Linked DNA regions of Homo sapiens: region 1 is linked to region 2. A link means that fine-mapping ties the variant in region 2 to the expression of a gene that starts in the linked region. Tissue or cell type: blood mononuclear cells. Region 2 holds a variant in brackets; the other region holds the start of a gene. All regions are shown on one strand. Distances are from middle to middle.

Region 1 (2,648 bases), 33 kb after region 2:
TTGTACACAGGTCTGCATCCCCTCCTAGCATCTGTGAGCTTCTCTCAGGGAAAAGCTCATTGATCTGCATCCCCAAGACCTGCTGGGGAAGAATCTATCCATCTAAACTCGCTTTAATTTGACAAATGAATCAGTTAAGAGTAGGAAAGCTGCCTATGGGCACTGCTCAATGCAACGTGAGCAACAAAGGGAGACAGAACTGAGGCCAGAAAGGTGAGGGGGGACAGAGGCTGGCAGGGAGGGGAGCTTGTCAGTGCAGACTCCAGGAAGAATCTATACAGAAAGTTACTGAGCGGCCTGAGTCCCCCAAGTGAGGGCTCGGGACAATCTCCCGCCTGGGTGAGAGAATAGGGAGACCCTGAAACGTCTCTGCAGCCTCGGGCTGCTCCAGAAGCGCCCACAGCTGCAGGGTTTTGGTGTGGATGGGACCTGCTGACAGGGATGCGGTGGGAAGAGCCCCTCGGCGCCCGTTCTCCCAGGCTTCCCCTTGGCCAAGGGTGCTCCTAGCACAGGGCCATGAAAGTAAGATGAAGAGGCTTGTTTTTCTCCTAGATACCAGCGGGCAAGCAGAAAACAAGAGGCTCAAGAGGGGCAGCCCCCGCATAGAGGAGATGCGAGCTCTGCGCTCTGCCAGGGCCCCGAGCCCGTCAGAGGCCGCCCCGCGCCGCCCGGAAGCCACCGCGGCCCCCCTCACTCCTAGAGGAAGGGAGCACCGCGAGGCTCACGGCAGGGCCCTGGCGCCGGGCAGGGCGAGCCTCGGAAGCCGCCTGGAGGTAACTGGGCGAGGGCCGCGCAGGGAAGGGCTCAGCAGGAGGTGCAGGCCACGGGCCGCTGCTGAGAGGTCCTCACCCCGGGCCCCCTTGTTCCCGCAGGACGTGCTGTGGCTGCAGGAGGTCTCCAACCTGTCAGAGTGGCTGAGTCCCAGCCCTGGGCCCTGAGCCGGGTCCCCTTCCGCAAGCGCCCACCGATCCGGAGGCTGCGGGCAGCCGTTATCCCGTGGTTTAATAAAGCTGCCGCGCGCTCACCAAGTCCTCTTCCGCGTCTGCTTCCGCGTCGGGCCCGGGCGGGGCGGGGCGGGGCGTGGAGCCGCGCCGCGGCCTGACGTCACCCACACCTCCCTGGGACTGCGTCACTGGTGCGCGCCGCGGGTCAGGGCGCAATGGCGGCGCTGGGCGGGGATGGGCTGCGACTGCTGTCGGTGTCGCGGCCGGAGCGGCCGCCCGAGTCGGCGGCGCTGGGCGGCCTGGGCCCCGGGCTGTGCTGCTGGGTGTCAGTGTTCTCCTGCCTCAGCCTCGCCTGCTCCTACGTGGGCAGCCTCTACGTCTGGAAGAGCGAACTGCCCAGGTGCGGGGGCTGCGCGCGACCGGAATCCGCGCCCTGCGGGCGGAGCTTGGGCGAGCCGGGGGCGGGTCCGTGCTCATGGGCAGCCGCGGGCCCCCTGAACTTACTGTCCCCTCCGTAGGGACCATCCCGCGGTCATCAAGCGACGCTTCACCAGCGTCCTGGTGGTGTCCAGTCTCTCACCCCTGTGCGTGCTGCTCTGGAGGGAACTCACAGGCATCCAGGTGCGAAGGAGGCGGGGCAAAGGGCAACGGCGGTGAGAGCTCAGGGGTCTTTAGGGGAGGAAGCAAAACTGATGCCCCCTTTCCTGTGGCTCAGCCAGGCACATCCCTGCTCACCCTGATGGGCTTCAGGCTGGAGGGCATTTTCCCAGCGGCGCTGCTGCCCCTGTTGCTGACCATGGTGAGTGCTCCTGCTGTATTTTTTCTTCTGGTCTTTGTTATCAGCCTGATGGGCAGTGCCGTGGACTCTTGTTTTTGGTTTTTGGTTGATGGGAGACAGGACTTTTGAGATGGCCCCAGGGTCCTCCGGTATGCATGGTCTGGAAATCGTGGCTGGAGAGGATTTCAAGCTTGGAGTCTCAGGGAGCATGGGCAAAGGTCTGGGCAAAAGCGGTGGGTTATGGTGAAAGTGTTTTCTTGCCCTCAGATTCTTTTCCTGGGCCCACTGATGCAGCTCTCTATGGATTGCCCTTGTGACCTGGCAGATGGGCTGAAGGTTGTCCTGGGTGAGTCTTAAAGGCTGAAGGGAAAAGTAGGCACAGGCAGTCCAGGACATTGGGGCAGGGAGTCAGCGGGCTCAGGGTGTGATCTGGACACGTGAAATGTCATCTCTCTGGGTGTGTTTTCTCATCAGTAAAATGGAAACATAGAGCTAGGTGGCCTCTAAGGGTTGATTGCCAACGTCCAAGGAGTTCCCTGGGAACCCCCAGCAGTATTTGGTGTGGATCAGAGAGCACTGTCCCCTGCTTCCCCAACCAGAGCTAGTCTTGCTTAAATTTTGGTGTCTCCAGAGTTTACTTCCAGGATGCCCTTGCCTCAGCTAATGCCTTCCATTCAGGTCATCTCAAGACATTGGGTTTATGTTGGGTCCACACCCCCGTCCTCAGCAGTATTGATGCCTAACCTGAGTTTGGCCAGGGTAAAGTTGTGGGAGAGGAGCCCTTGGAGCCTCTGGGGTCTCACTGTCTGACAGCCCGTCACTCACAGCTTGTCCTGAATTCCCTCTGCAGCCCCCCGCTCCTGGGCCCGCTGCCTCACAGACATGCGTTGGCTGCGGAACCAAGTGATCGCCCCGCTGACAGAGGA
Region 2 (2,841 bases):
TGTGTGCGTGTGTGTGACGGAGTCTCGCTCCGTCGCCCAGGCTGGAGTGCAGTGGCTCGATCTGGCTCACTGCAAGCTCCGCCTCCCGGGTTCATGCCATTCTCCTGCCTCAGCCTCCCAAGTAGCTGGGACTACAGGCACCCGCCACCACGCCAGGCTAATTTTTTGTATTTTTAGTAGAGACGGGGTTTCACCGTGTTAGCCAGGATGGCTGAGACAGATTTAAGAACAGAATAATCAAGCAGTATAAATAAAAAAGATTTCTACACCTAAAGAGATGAAAAACAGAGAAGAATCTTAAAATCAGTCAGGAGGACAAATCATCTTTAAAAGATAAATTAACAGTTGACTTCCCCATACCAACAGAAGGTGTTAGACTAATAGTGTTAATGTCTTGAAATAAAATCATTACCAACCTAGAATTTCATATCCAATCCAAATATTCCTCAACATAAAAGGTAATAAACTTACCTGTATATTATGTTAAAATTATAATCCACGTAACAAGAAGAATTAATTCAACAGACTTTAGAACATGGTGTTTTGACTATACGTTCTTAGCAGGATATACTCTAAGGATGAAATGGAAGTCCAAAGACCTCTTAAAATTTATTCAGTGGCATGATTGTTAGTAATAATATTGGTATTTTATATTGGAATTATTGTATGCATACTTATGATAAATAATTATGTTAACAATGTTAGGAACCAAAGTTTTTAGCATCAGATAGAAGATATGTGAGTGTAAATTCAGAGAAATAACTATTTTTTTTAAAGGGATCTCACTCTGTTGCCCAGGCTAAAGTGCAGTTGTGCGATCATAGCTCACTGCAACCTCGAACTTCTGGGGTTAAGCAGTCCTCCTACCTCAGCCTCTCCTGAGTAGCTGGGACTACAAGCATGCACCATCATGCCTGGCTAATTTTTTTATTTTTATTTTTTGTAGAGACAGGGTCTCACCCCCGAGTTTCCAAATTTAATGAAAACTATAAACCTGCAGATTCATGATCAATGAACCCTAAGTGTAAGAAATATGAAGAAAATTATACCAAGTCACATCATAATCAAAGTATTTGAAGCCAGTAATAAAAAAATCTTAAAAGCAGCTGGAGATAAGACACATTATGTATAGAGGAACAAAATAATTATGGCAGATTTCTCACTGGAAACAGTGTTAGCTAGAAGAAAGTGGGGTAACATCTTTATAAAGTACTGAGAGAAAAAAGGCAAAATGAAGAATTTTTCAGACATAGAAAAGGTGAAAGAATTTATCACCAGAAGACCTGTATTATAAGAAATGTTAACAGAAATCTTTTAGGTAGAAGAAAAATGTTGCCAGACGGAATTCTGAATCTACCCAAAAAAGGAAGAGCACTGGAAGTGGTGGCTATGCGGGTAGATACAAAATACTTTTGTCCTTTTAAAAACACAAAATATCCTTCTTGAGTATATAAACCAAAAAGCATCCAAGACAG[G/A]TTTCAATCAGTTTAGAAGTTTATTTTGCCAAGGTTAAGGATGTTCCTGGGAGACAGGTCTGTGCCTTTCTCTAAAGATGGTTTTGAGGTCTTCAGTATTTAAAGGGGAAACGCAGGCTGGAGAGGAAAGATGGAGGGGATGATCACATTATTGAATCCATATGTTACAAGAGAAAAGGAGCAAGTAGGGGAACAGTCAATTATGTATTTGTCTTGTGCTCAGTAAAGTGGCCCTTTATATAATAGAAGGTGAACATTACAGTAGCTACCTGTAGAGGTATTTAACCCTTTATCTGTAGCTATCTGCTTAGGAACAAAAGGAGAGACAGCTTCTTGCATGACTCAGCTTTCAGCTAAATTATTTCCTTTTGGCATAGTGATTTGGGGTCTTGAGTTTTAATTTTCCTTTCACAAGTACCTTACCAGAAAAAAAAAAATCTTTAAAAAACAAGTCTTGAAGTCTCTCCCTTCAGGCTCCAATTACACATTCCTGAATTAGGCCACCTAAAGTTATCCTGCAGTTCACTGAGGCTTTATTCATTTATGTAGAGACAGGGTCTTGCTGTTTCCCAGGCTGGAGTGCAGTGGCTTGATCTTAGCTCACTGCAGCCTTGAACTCCTAAGCTCGTGTGACCTTCCCACTTCAGCCTCCTGAGTGGCTAGGACTACAGGTGTACACCACCATACCTGGCTAATTTTGCATGTGTGTGTGTGACATATCTTGCTATCATTTTCTATGTTCTTCATATTTCTTTTTTTTGAGATGGAGTCTCACTCTGTTGCCCAGGCTGGAGTGCAGTGGTGTGATCTCAGCTTACTGCAACCTCTGCCTCCTGAGTTCAATCAATCAGGCCCCTGAAATGATTTCTATCTCTGCCATTTCAGCCTCCCGAGTAGCTGGGACTACATGTGCCCACCACCATGGCCAGCTAATTTTCGTATTTTTAATAGAGACAGGGTTTCGCCATGTTGGCCAGGCTGGTCTCGAACTCCTGACCTCAAGTGATCCGCCTGCCTTGGCCTCCCAAAGTGCTGGGACTACAGGCATGAGCTACTGTGCCCAGCCTATACTCTTCATATTTCTTATGCTTAGGGTTCATTGATCATGGATCTGCAAAAATATAATGTATAAGGTTTATAACATCTATGGAAATAAAACCTGTGACAATAGCACAAAGGCCAAGAGGAGAGAAGTGGAAGTATATTGTTGGATTCTTAAACTTTATATGAATTGTTATAATATCATTTGAAGGTAGACTGTGATAAGTTAAAGTTGTATACTAATAAAGCCTGGCAATCCCTGGTTTAATGCAACAGTTATAACTAATAACTTAAAAAGGAGATAAAATGGAGTTATAAAAAATTC

Evidence for each region. PIP is the estimated chance that this variant, and not a neighbour inherited with it, causes the effect.
Region 1: RCE1 starts here. The variant in region 2 is fine-mapped to the expression of RCE1 in blood mononuclear cells (TOPMed, PIP 0.93).

The regions. Positions count from the first base shown.
Region 1 is chr11:66,842,297-66,844,944 of GRCh38, forward strand. RCE1 (Ras converting CAAX endopeptidase 1) reads left to right here and starts at 1,145. Exons shown (of 8, transcript NM_005133.3): 1 at 1,145-1,344; 2 at 1,463-1,565; 3 at 1,660-1,743; 4 at 1,990-2,068; 5 at 2,573-2,648. The coding sequence starts at 1,160. TOP6BL (TOP6B like initiator of meiotic double strand breaks) reads left to right here. Exons shown (of 15, transcript NM_001302084.2): 14 at 553-773; 15 at 873-1,220. The coding sequence ends at 938. RefSeq lists silencers at 686-825, 936-1,375 and an enhancer at 1,016-1,722.
Region 2 is chr11:66,808,951-66,811,791 of GRCh38, forward strand. All of the region lies in intron 7 of TOP6BL (TOP6B like initiator of meiotic double strand breaks), which reads left to right. Among named protein-coding and RNA genes, the nearest start is that of RCE1, 33 kb to the right of the region's middle. The variant G/A (reference allele first, on the strand shown) is at 1,476.